Homo sapiens: one gene and its partner. The protein of the gene in region 2 interacts with the protein of the main gene of each other region in a biochemical or structural test. Each region holds a gene or a part of one and is shown on either strand. Other genes may lie near its edges. The genes, in order: PDGFRB and SYNGAP1.

Evidence for each region.
Region 1: the proteins of SYNGAP1 (region 2) and PDGFRB form a complex in vitro, tested with the Homo sapiens proteins (one study listed by BioGRID).

Annotation. Positions count from the first base shown.
Region 1 is NC_000005.10:150,113,240-150,118,026, forward strand, and holds the end of PDGFRB (platelet-derived growth factor receptor beta isoform 1 precursor), read right to left. Parts: intron 4,612-4,787; coding exon 4,379-4,611; intron 2,708-4,378; coding exon 2,524-2,707; 3' UTR 600-2,523; downstream 1-599. UniProt on the Homo sapiens protein: Tyrosine-protein kinase that acts as a cell-surface receptor for homodimeric PDGFB and PDGFD and for heterodimers formed by PDGFA and PDGFB, and plays an essential role in the regulation of embryonic development, cell proliferation, survival, differentiation, chemotaxis and migration.
Region 2 is NC_000006.12:33,436,785-33,444,064, reverse strand, and holds part of SYNGAP1 (ras/Rap GTPase-activating protein SynGAP), read right to left. Parts: intron 6,703-7,280; exon of another isoform or gene 6,584-6,702; intron 6,398-6,583; coding exon 5,774-6,397; intron 5,735-5,773; exon of another isoform or gene 5,647-5,734; coding exon 5,502-5,646; intron 5,291-5,501; coding exon 5,146-5,290; intron 3,337-5,145; coding exon 3,100-3,336; intron 2,893-3,099; coding exon 2,691-2,892; intron 2,485-2,690; coding exon 2,306-2,484; intron 1,613-2,305; coding exon 1,571-1,612; intron 1,177-1,570; coding exon 105-1,176; intron 1-104. UniProt on the Homo sapiens protein: Major constituent of the PSD essential for postsynaptic signaling. Inhibitory regulator of the Ras-cAMP pathway.

The DNA of each region.
Region 1 (4,787 bases), on a different chromosome or scaffold from region 2:
TATTCCCTCCCCTGTCCTTACCCTGGCCGCAGTTCCCTCCGCTTCCTCTCTTCCTCTTCCTCTTCCTCTTCTCTCTTCTCCACCTTCTCCTCACTTCGTGCTCTCACGCTTTTGGACACTCTGTCTGCCCTTCTCCTACCTGGGGCCTGATCATGACTCACCTGGACCTGGAATCTGGGCTCTAGCAGCTGCCTGTCACAGAGCACGCCGGCCTCAATCCGGGCCTGTGGGCGGAGTGGAGGGGAGGGTGTCCCAGCTGATAGCCAAAGCCAAAGCACATGGTGGAGGCAGTGAGACGCCTCAGCACCAGAGCCTTGGAGCAGCCCTGCAGCCCCACACCCTCCTGCCCGACTCAAGGCCAGGCTCTGTGGAGCCAGAAAAGCCTGCTCGCTTCCCACCTTGGGAAACCAAGCCCAAGGTCTAGGCCCCCCAGCTTCCAGCGAGGGGTGGGAGAGCGAAAATCCCCACTTTACAGATGAATGAAATGAGACTCAGAGCTGAAGGGACCTGTCTGGGGGTCTGCGTCTGGGTGAGCCTCATGTGCCCCACTCCACACTCCCTATGGGCAGGAACCCAAACCCGAGAGAGACCACAAAGTCTGTGAGTGAGAAGCACCAGGTTTAATATTAAAATCTTTCCCTTAAAAAAAAGTACACAGATAGAAAAACTCAACAGCATACAAAATAGCATTTCTGCTGTATAAATGTGAGTTAACGTGAGTCCTAAAAATATTTGTAAACCTAGGTGATTATATCTTTGGTACCGTATTGAGAACCCACTCTCCCTCCTTGGACCAACTCTGGGGATCCCAGGGAAGTAAGGTGCCAACCTGCAATGCAGGGTTGGTGCCCAGAGGGGTTGAGCTTCCTGCACCCCCTTCCCAACCCTCCCCGTGCGGGGGCGTCTTGGCTACAACCCTGACTCCCCTGGCACCTCCAATGCCCACTGGGCTGGGGACAATGAGATGTCACTGCTAGGTCTGGGCAGTGACAAAACCATACCCCCATGGAGCGCTGCCTCAGGGATGGGGCAGCTGGTGGGTGAGGGGCAAACCTCCAAAGCGCCCACCTCTCACATCCTTCTTGGGGTACCCATCTGAAGCTTCTTGTCTTTTACAAGACATAACTGTCCTCACTGTCCATTCTGTCTTCGACGCAGACCTCGGCACAGGTGCTGGAGTGGTGGGCTGCAGGAGGTGATCTCATTTGCCCTCTTTGTCCCTTTTGCCCAGGATACCCCCGGAGGTCATCGTGGGTAGTGAAAGAGGTCCCGTGGTCTTCCCATGTCCCTGGGGCAGCTGCTGGGGGCTTTCCAGGACACCGGCTGTCACTCTAAGTCAAGGCCTGTGCAGCTGTGTTCTTGAGACTTGCTGGGGGCCTGGGGAAGGGGCATGGTTCCTGAGTCCCCAGAGTGTGATGTGTGATCTGGAATCTCCCAGGAGCCCAGCTGACCCCCAGGATGGAAGTTTAGGGTATATGGCCTTGCTTCATCTGGACAAATGTGCAACCACCTGGAATACTCTAGAATGTTAGTGCTGGCAAGGCACTCAGAGTTAATAAGTCCGACTTATTCATTTTTTGAAGGGGAAACTGAGGCCCAGAGAGGGTGAGGGATTCCTCCAAAGCCTCATAGCAGGTCCAATGCAGAGCCAGGGCCATATACTGGCACACACACGTGGCCACTCCACACTGGCACATTTACATTCTCATCACAGATGCGGGGCCCGTCTGGCCTTCTAGACTCTGGTGGATGGATTAAGACTGAGGGTGATAAAGAAAAAGCCCCAGGACTGATGGGCCTGAAGGACAGGGACACAGGCACTTGCTATGGCTGCGTGTGCTCCAAGTGCCCTGGGCAAGGGCTGCAGGCTGGGGGTGTCCTGTACTTGGCTCAGCCTCCAGCATTAATTAGGCTGCCTAATGGCCCCAGACCAGCTCGGGCCAGGGAACGCAGGGACTGGCATCATAGGGAGGAGACTGGCTTTCTTCTGGATGAGGCAACACTGCTCAAGGCTAGGCCCTAGCTCAGCCAGCAGCCAGGGAGGCTAGGGTCTCTTCCCTAGCTCCTGGGTGGATAAAAGTGCGAGGAGAGAGCTATGATTCCTTGAGGGGTAGCTGGCTGAACAGAAAAAAGTTAATTTACCACCTCAGTAACTCCAAGAATCTTCCCAGGGAGGGATTCGGTCTCCCCACCTGTCAGCCAGGGAGAGAATCCTAGATTCTGGGTCATCAAGCCTAACTTTCCCATTTTACATATGGGAAAACTGAGTTCCCTGGGGGAACCCTGGCTCAGAGTCAGTTGGCCTCCCTGGAGGCAGAGGGCTGGTCACGGCCCCTGCAGTTTTCTTGCCTCCTAAGCCAGCCCCAGGGTTTGGGGCACAACACGTCAGGAGCAGAAAGCTTCCAGAAGGGGACAGCTGATAAGGGCAGCCTGGCTGACAGGAAGCCCGGTCAGGCCAGGCCAGGAGATGCTGGGTGCTGGCAGGGGGGGAGCTTCAGGCAGGGCAGGGTAGGGGCCAGCCCCCTACAGGAAGCTATCCTCTGCTTCCGCCCGAGGCGCAGGGCACCCCGAATCCGGCAACTGTTCCAGCTCTGGCTCCGGCTCCACCTGGAGCTCAAGCTGGGGCTCTGGCTCTGGTTCGTCCTGGGGCTCCAGGGGGCTGTCACAGGAGATGGTTGAGGAGGTGTTGACTTCATTCAGGGTGGAGCTAGAGGAAAGAGGCAGTGAGTGAGGGGCTAGGAAGGAGCCCAGGAGGATTCCAGCAGCAGTCATGAAGAGCCTTCGGTGTGTCCACCCCTGCACCGTAGGCTTCACACACTCCGGCTCATTTAACTCTTGTGAAAACTATGCAAGGCCTGCACCGTGAGGAAAGTGTGGCTCAGAGAGGTTATATCACTGCCCCACTTCACACAGCAGGGAAGTGCAGGAGCTGGAACTTCGGAGCAGGGTCAGCTGGCTCCAAAGCTCGTTTCTCACCCACCAGCATCTCCCTCCTCTGCACTCCTAAAGGTGTATGCTATCTCATTTAATCCTTGCAATGACCGCCTAATAGAAGTACTTTTACTGTTTGTATTTTACAGAAGAAGACACTGGCCGGGCGTGGTGGCTCACATCTGTAATCCCAGCACTTTGGGAGGCCGAGGCAGGCGGATCACCTGAGGTCAGGAGGTTGAGACCAGTCTCAACATGGAGAAACCCCAACTCTACTAAAAATACAAAATTAGCCAGGCGTGGTGCTGCATGCCTGTAATTCCAGCTACTCGGGAGGCTGAGGCAGGAGAATTGCTTGAACCTGGGAGGTGGAGGTTGCAGTGAGCCGAGATCGCGCCATTGCACTCCAGCCTGGGCAACAAGAGCGAAACTCCATCTCAAAAATAAATAAATAAATGAATAAAAATAATAAAAAAAAAAAGAAGAGGACACCAATGTTTAGACAGTGAAGCAGCTTGTCTGAGGGCACAAAACAGGGTGAGCATTCACACCTCAAGCTGTGTGAGCGCTGCACTTCACTCCTCTGCACCATCCACTGGGACTCTTGGATGGTTGGCCTCTTCAACAGTTAGAGCAATGAGGGCCTTCGGAGCCTTCTAAGGCCGGTGTGCACTCCTGGCACATATGGAGAAACTGAGGCTCGCAGAGGAGAAGCCTTCCCAGGTCTCAGCGGCTAGTGGCAGAGTTGGGACAGTACCCCAGCCTGGGGCTCCAGCCACTTCACCTTGGGCTGGATCTCGCTTTGGAGGTGGGCGTGGCCTCATGGGGAGCCCTTCTCTCCAGTTAAGGGGAGATCCTGCGTGGACATCAAGTCCACACAACAGCAGGGTCCTCCTATAAAGCCCCCTCTGGGCTGTAACTTCACCACTTCCCAAGGCAAAAGAAAACCACGAATCTCCTTCCCAGTCTGAATTCTGTCCTGAATTCCTTTAGGCACCTCTGACTCCTACAACCAAGCAGGCTCCCTCTGGCCCCAGGGCGTGGTGCTGAAGAACAGAACATAGGCCTCAGGCTGGCCATGAGTAACAGCTGGGGTGCTGGGGATGCTAAGTAGGTTTGCTTCTTCTTTTTGGGGCTAGGACAGGACCTAGAGATAAGAGAGTATAGATAACCTCTGGGGGCTCCCTTAAAGGAAATAGCTACCTTGCAAGTAAGTCCCAGCCCATACTTTTGTTTTTACTAGCCTGCCCTTTCCACCTCAGGGCATCAAAGTTCAAATGAGTTCCATTCTGTCTTCTATTCATTGGTAGGGATAAGTACTTACCCTACGTAACTTACCTCTGAGGCAAACCTGGCAGCGCGCGCGCGCGCGCGCACACACACACACACACACACACACACACACACACTGTGCACAATTTCCTTGGCCCCAGGCCAGGGTGGTTACCTGGCTAGGCTGGGGGAACCCTCCAGTGGGCCCTCGTCAGCAACCTCGGGTTTGGGGTCAGGCAGGGGGATGATATAGTCGTTGTCACCCTCATTGGGCTGCACGGCAGTATAGAGGACGGAGCTGGTGTCCAGGGGAGATCGGAGGCCATGGAACCCAGGCAAGCGGGCCTGGGACCGAAGGATGGCTGGGTGGTCACTCCTCAGAAACTCCTCATCCACCTGCTGGTACTTCTGCTCCCGGGGCAGGGAGAACCAAAGAAACAGGGATGGTCAGGCCAGAAATGCCTTCAGGGATCTTCTAACCGAGCCCATCCCCCTTTGTATAAATAAGACCCCCGCTGCTCAGAGGGGAAAGGGATTTGCCCAAGCCACATGGTTGAGCTGCCCTCCTACCTCACATAGAATCT
Region 2 (7,280 bases):
GAAGATTGTAACTTCAGGCCACAGACTCTGTTTCAACCCCACCCCCCATCTCCTTCTTCCCTCCCTGTTGTGACCCAGCCCGCCTTCCTCCTGCCTTCACCTACCTGCTTGGTGATGGAGGGCTTCAGCCCCCCACCCCCTCCGCCACCGCTGCCCCCGCTGCCCCCAATGCTGCCCTCCTTGCTGAGGCTCTGTTGCCGTGGACGGGCGGGGCCATAACTTGGCTCTGGGGACTGCAATAGATTCCCGCTGGATGGCCGGGGTTTCTGGGCTGCGCTGACTGTCAACTGCTGAGACTTGCCCCTCTGCAATGGAGGCGGCTGGCCCCCGCCACCCCCACCGCTGCCCCCACCGCTCCCACCTCCAGGCCCTGAGGGGGCTGGCCTCTGGGGACCAATGGTGATCTGGGGAGGGGACAGCATGTGCTGCAGGTTGTCCTGGAGTGAAAGCTGCCGACGGGTGAAGTCAGTGCCAGAGGGTCCAAACTCATCACTGTAGCTGTGGCTATGAAGGATGGAGGCAGCAGGGGGCTTGGGGACCCCGGAAGAGAGGTCCTCACTCTTGCTATAGCCATGGAATGGGGCAAAGGTGTCCCCAGGGGGCTCTCCACCTCGGTGGTGGTGATGGTGGTGGTGGTGGTGATGGGAGGAAGGTGGGCCATGGCCACCGCCCCCTCCATGGCCGCCTGGGGGACCTGGCCCATCAGCAGCCATGTGGAAGAGAGGGTTCTGGAAGGAGAGGGGGATTCGCAGTTGCTGGGCAGGGACACCGTCTGTGGTGACACCCATCTGGCTGAGGCGCATGCCAGCCGCCGTGATGGATGAGCCACTCCCCTGGGAGAGGCGTCCGGCAGGCGCAGGCCGTAGCCCCAAGGCTGCTGTCAGCGAGGCCTGGCTTGAGTGCAGCAGGTCCCCTACGGCCGCCAGGTTCGAAACACTGCTGCTGTTGAGGCGGCCACCAGGCCCATCACCCTGTAAGTCCAGCATGGACACACTCTTGTTGACACTCAGCATCTTCTGCTCTGGCTCTGTGATGTCCGAGCTGCTCGTGCAGTATGCTGGTGAGGAACGGGCCAGGGGTGGACGGCTTACATAGAACAGGTCTTTACCACCACCAGGCGGTGGTGGGGGTGGCTTTTCCTTGGTTGGGGAGGGGAGGCGAGCCATGTCCATAGAGCTGTCAGAAGGGAAGGGGGCACACAAGCAGAAGGTAAGGTCAGGGCTCCTAGCAATTGAACCTTGCTGTGGTCTGGCACAGGCCTTGGGGTGAAAAGTGGGACCCAGAGGGAAGGGCTGAGAGCTAGCGGTGGCAGCCCTGAAGAGGGCAGGCAGGGAGGATGGGAGGGGACAGGTGAGTAAAGGGAAAGGACAGGGCCCCTCCGGGAAGGGGGTGAGGCCTAGAGGAGGGGAGATGGGGGCAGCAAGAGAAGGGATGGGGGCAGGGCTGGGCACATATGGAGGAGATGAGGTCCATGGAGGAGGAGAGGAGAGGAGTAGGGCGAAGGCCAGTGGAGTGGGAGAGGGAACAGACAGGAGAGGAGAGGAGGGCGGGGGAGGGGAGAGCCCCTCACCTGTTGAGGCCTCGAGCCATGAAGGACTGAAGGTCGATGGAGCTGGAGAGAGATGGAAAGAGGGGCGAGCACAGACAGAGAAGGAGAGAGATGTGGACAAATGAAAGGAGAGGCGGGAATGGTGGGATGGGTATGGTGTCATGGAGGAAGACACGGGCAGAGGAAAAAGCAGGGCCATCATCAAAATAATGAGCAGCAAATGAAGCACGGGCACCACCTATCAGAATGGAGGCTGGGACTCTGGAGCAGGCTGCAGGCCCTGCTAGGCTTCTGCTGTCACTGCTCTAAGTGCTGGATCATGGGGAGGTCTGTGGGGTTGTGGTCGGGGGCTGGGGGAAGTGCTTATTCACTAGCTATTACTGAGATGTTTGAACATTTTGACACATGGCTGACATGACATGCTGGCTGAACCTCAGCCTGGGGACTAGCATGGGCAGGCAGAGGGACAGCAAATCAGAGCTTGCAGCAGGGATGCTCTAGGCTTACAACTAAGCCGTGAGTTGGTGGAGCCTCAGCCCTATTCCTAGAGCTCCAAATCTCTCACTCCCTCAGGCTGTAAAGGGCTCTCAGCCTACCACTGACTGTACCTGTCTCCTTATCGTCTCCCCTGAGAACTTGGTGCTTTTTCCTCCCTTCTTTCAAGCCCTAGAGAGATGCATGTGGGGCCCAGTGAGGAGTATCTAGAATAGGAGAAGGGCTCCTAGGGCACAGGCCTGGCTGTCCCAGGGTGCTCACCTGTTGAGGTCCCGCATCATGTAGCCCTGCATCTCAGCCGATGGCCCCCGCAGTACCACAGGCTGAGGCCGGGGCCGCTCACTCTGGCGGCTTGGCTGCCTTTGGATGTTGGGGTTCCTCAGAGCTGTGCTGATGTCGTTGAGGAGCCGGGGCAGTGGACCCAGCTTCAGGAGGGCTTCCTGGAAGGGTGAGGCTGTTACCTGGGGGCTCAGTGCCCAGCTCTAAGAGGGCCTCTGAGGGTGCAGGTGGAGGGGGCCTGAGTTGGGATAGTAGTGGTGACACCTCGAGAAACAAGGGGAGAAAAAAAATCTTCAAAGGGTAGTTTCTCAGGCTCCAGGAACCTCTGGAGCCATCTGGGGATAGGGCAAAGAGGGGATCTGCTGACCTTGCTGAGCTGGGGCAGCACCTCCCAGAGTAGGGCATGCAGTGTGGAGAGCTCTCGGCCCAAGTCGATGTAACCCTCAAAGCTACTGCTGTTGGTTAGCGTGTCCAGATTGGAGATCTCATACAAAAACTGCTGCATGGAACCCCATTCCAGCTCCAGAAACTCATTCATGAAGCCCAGAAAGTCCTCCTTTGAGGTAAACCTAGCCAAGAATGCAGAAGATAAAGGTCACATACACACACACACACACACACACACACATACACACACATACACACACACACAAGGTATCATAGCCTCCCCATCTCAGGATCTCTGGGGACTCAGGAGACCCTTCTTGCCGACCCCCAGCCCTGCCACTCCCTGCCCTGCCACTCCCTGCCCTGCCCACTCCTGAAGCTTCCCTCACTTGGAAAAGTTGGCCAGGTTCTGGATGACCTTGGCAATGAGGGTGAGGGTTCGTGAGGTCTGCTCATCTGGGTACTCCTGCATAAGCCCAAAGAGACTGGGCGACATAATCGCTGGGCAGAGGAAGCGCAGGAAGAGTGAGGCGCTGATAAGCCTGTCTGCGATGTCCTCCCGGCCTCGCTCTGCGCAGCGCAGCCGCCACGAAGCAAACACCTCCTTCAGCTCCCTCGGGAACACGCTGGGGGGAAGGGTCGGGGAGACAGAGAGAGAGAGAGAGAAAGAGAGAGACCGGGACTGAGCCCCAGAGACCCTCAGCTTCCAGGGAACATGCTGAGGGGGGTGGTAGGAGGTGAGGGTGTGGAAACAGGGGTGAGAGAGACAGGGAAGGAGGGACCGCAGGAGCAAGATGGGAGGCTGCTTGAAGAAGGGGGCCATGGCAGAGGGAACAGACAGATTAGGGAGAGAGAAATGGAGGGGGAGAGAAGGTGAGGGGAGAGACACGTGGGAGAGAGATGGAGGGGTGTGGGAGAGAGACAAGGAGAGGAGGAGAAGAAAAACAGACACCAGGGAGAGACAGAGATGGGAGAGAGATGGAGGGTCACTTGAGGTACAGGGAGCTCGGACCCCCCAACTCTTCTGGATTCCAGGGAAATGGGGATGGAGGTGCCCCAGGCATGATCCCCAGTCCCTGGAATGGCTCAGAGCTCACTCCCCGCACCTCCCAGTTCCACTTCAATGTCCCACTGACACCTTAAACTCGGCTGGTGTAAAGCAGAGCTCACCATCGCCCCCACACCTCCAACTGGCTCCTCCTCCTGACTTTCCTGGTTGTCAATGAGGCCACCGGTCTCCCAACCACCAGCCTCATGGCCTCTTGAGTCATCCGTGACTCCCCACAGACATGCTCCCTCCTTTCCAATAAGCTGACAATTCCTACTGATCCTTTCCCGAGAGGGTCCTTCCAGTAGCTCCTTCCTAACTTCTGTCACTGTTCTGATTCAGGATCTGACTTTCATGCCTCCGAGCCCCCAGCTGGCTCTATTCCAGTCATCCCCCAACATACATCCCTCTACTCTACTACATACACTCTACTTATGGATTAATTTTTTTTTTTTGAGATGGAGTTTCACTCTTGTTGCCCAGGCTAGAGTGCAATCGTGTGATCTCGGCTCACTACAACCTCCACCTCCCAGATTCAAGTGATTCTCCTGCCTTAGCCTCCCGAATAGCTGGGATTACAGGCATGTGCCACCACATCTGGCTAATTTTGTATTTTTAGTAGAGACAGGGTTTCTCCATGTTGGTCAGCCTGGTCTCAAACTCCTGACCTCAGGTGGTCTGCCCGCCTCAGCCTCCCAAAGTGCTGGTATTACAGGTGTGAGCCACCGTGCCCAGCCTATGGATTAATCTTCTAAATCACAATATTTCTGACACCTTTAATGGCATCCCAAGGCCTACCAATGACCTCAGACTCCTTGAGGCCTTCCAGTTTCTAAAGCTAATCTTCCTGCCCAGACATCTCTCCCGCCACTCCCCATTATGAGGCACATGCTCCACTAAACCTGATGTAATTGCTACTAACCTACTTTAATGTCCCCTGAAAACTCCTGGGCCTTTTCACCATCACACATGTGCCTTTCTCACAGCCTTCTTCTGAAATGTCTTTCTTGCCAACTATGTCCATATATCAGAACCTAAACCAGTCTTCAAAGCCTACCCAAGGGGGCACCTCTTCCCCACTTATCTCAAAGCTCTGCCTTCTCTCTGACCTTATGTCACACAGAGGTTGGGGGGACCCTTACTCAGCACTTACACACCATTATGGCTCTGTGGCTTTTTTTTTTTTTCTTCTAATTTGTCCCCATTCTGGTGGAGGCCCTCTGAGGGCAGGGACCAGGCCTCTTTCACCTGTTTGCTCTATAGCGCCTAGAACAATGCTTTGCCCATAAATGGTGCTCAGTCCTCTTTGAGGATGGACAGATAGATGAACAGATGAACACATAATTCCCCCGACCCTGGCCCCCCAGCCCAGCGTTCCCAGTCTCACCAGTGGGAGTTGACCACCTTGCACAGGGCCAACTCACAGCACATTCGCAGGTTGGCCTGGTGCTCTGCCAAACTGGATGCTGTGCACTTGATAGGGTCTACCTCGCAGTTTTCCTCAGATTCATACAGAGCACGGATGAATTCTCCTGGGGGGTGGGGGCACAAGAGGGTGTGGTCACACTTTCCAAGGGCAGGGAAGGGGGTGGCCAGGGTTGGGGAAATTTCAGAATCAGGTGTTGGAGGCTGGAGTCCTAGGACTCTGGGTTAGGAAGTATCAAGCTGTGGAAGGGTGGACTTGGGGTCTGGGGTGGACATCTGGCAGGTTTGGGAAGAAGAGGGCCTGAGTGTGGGCCATACCAATGGCATCCTTGAGGTATTTCTGACCAATCAGTCTCATATACTCTTCTATGGCTTTAGTGGCAAGCGTGTTCTCGCGGAATATGAGGTGCTCCCGTTCCATGAACCGGTCTACCTCAGACATGGCCATGTCTGAAAGGAAGTCCTGAGGCCCAGGAAAATCCAAGTGTCAGCCTCTGCACAACCCAATCTCGTGAATTTGCCCTGTCCTCACTAACCCCCAAGCAAGTGCCCATTCCCAAGTCACCTTTCCCTGAGGGCACAACACTCACCTTGGCCTTGCCTGTACTCTGCAGGATGTGAACTAGTGCACTGGCAACCTCCTCCTTGCCTTTGACATTCAGGGCGGGCTCCAAGACTGCACACAGCATCCGATAATGGTTGGTGACATACTCTGCAAACTCTTTATATAGCTCCATGGGCAAGATGCTCATTGTCTGGTAACGTGCTTTCAGCCGCACAGCCGGGCAACCTCCTTTGCCCTTGCCCCCTGAGCCACCCCCCGAGCCCCCTCCCCCTCCCGAACCCATGCCCCCAGATCCCCCACTGCCTGTTGGCAGGGTTACAGGGTACCACTGCTCTGTGAAGTGGCGCCCAGCCAGGGTGGCCACTGGCACAGTCACCAGGCCGACATAGCCTGCCTTGTCCTTCTTGCGCTTTTTGTCTGAGTCACGGTACAGATGCAGCCGCAGGGCACGGACAGCCGGCAGGTTGTTAAACTCGAAGTGCTCGCCCCAGAAGACGGTGTCCCCAGAGGCAGAGCGGGGCTTGGAGGTGGTGCGTGCATACAGCATGTCATCCAGGCAGAGCTCACAGTAGTACCGCTTCTTGGGGGGCAGCTCCCGGGCCTCTATGATCCACAGCTTTAGCACATTGTCTACCCGGCGGCTGTTGTCCTGGCATGGTGGGGTGGGCATGATGTTAAAGGGGGAAGGGACAGAGAGACACCAAAAGAGGAGAGACAGTAAGAAAGTGGGATACAGACAGCAATCATAAGGTGAGACGGTGTACTGGGTTGAATAGTATCCCACCAAAACTCATGTCTACCCTGAACCTGTGAATGTGATCTTATTTGGAAACAGGATCCCTGCAAATGTAATCAAACTAAGAAGAGGCCAGCCATGGTATCTCATTCCTGTAATCCCAGCACTTTGGGAGGCCGAGGTGGGTGGATTGCCTGAGGTCAGGAGTTCGAGCCAGCCTGGCCAACATAGTGAAACCCCGTCTCTAATAAAAATACAAAAACAAATTAGCTGGGCATAGTGGCACGTGCCTGTAATCCCAGCTACTCAGGAGGCTGAGGCAGGAGAATCACTTGAACCTGGAAGGCGGAGGTTGCAGTGAGCTGAGCTCATGCCATTGCACTCCAAGCCTGGGAAACAAGAGCGATATTCCATCTCAAAAAAAAGAGGCCATACTGAATTAGAGTGGACCCTTAACCCACCTTATAAAAACTGGTGTCTTTATATGGAGAGGGAGATTTGGAGACACAGAGATACAGGATACAGAGACACACAGAAGGAAGCCAGCTACATGAAGATGGAGGCAGAAATTAGACGGATGCAGTTATAAGCCCAGGAATGCCAAGGACTGCTGGCAACCTCCGGAAGCTAGGAAGAGGCAAGGAAGGATTCCCTGCTACAGCATCAAAGAGAGCGTGGCCCTGCTGATACCTTGCTTTTGGACTTCCAGCCTCCTGAACTGTGAGAGAATAAATTTCTGTTGTTTTACGTGACCCAGTTTGTAGCAGTTTGTTATAGCAGCCCCAGGAAGCTACTG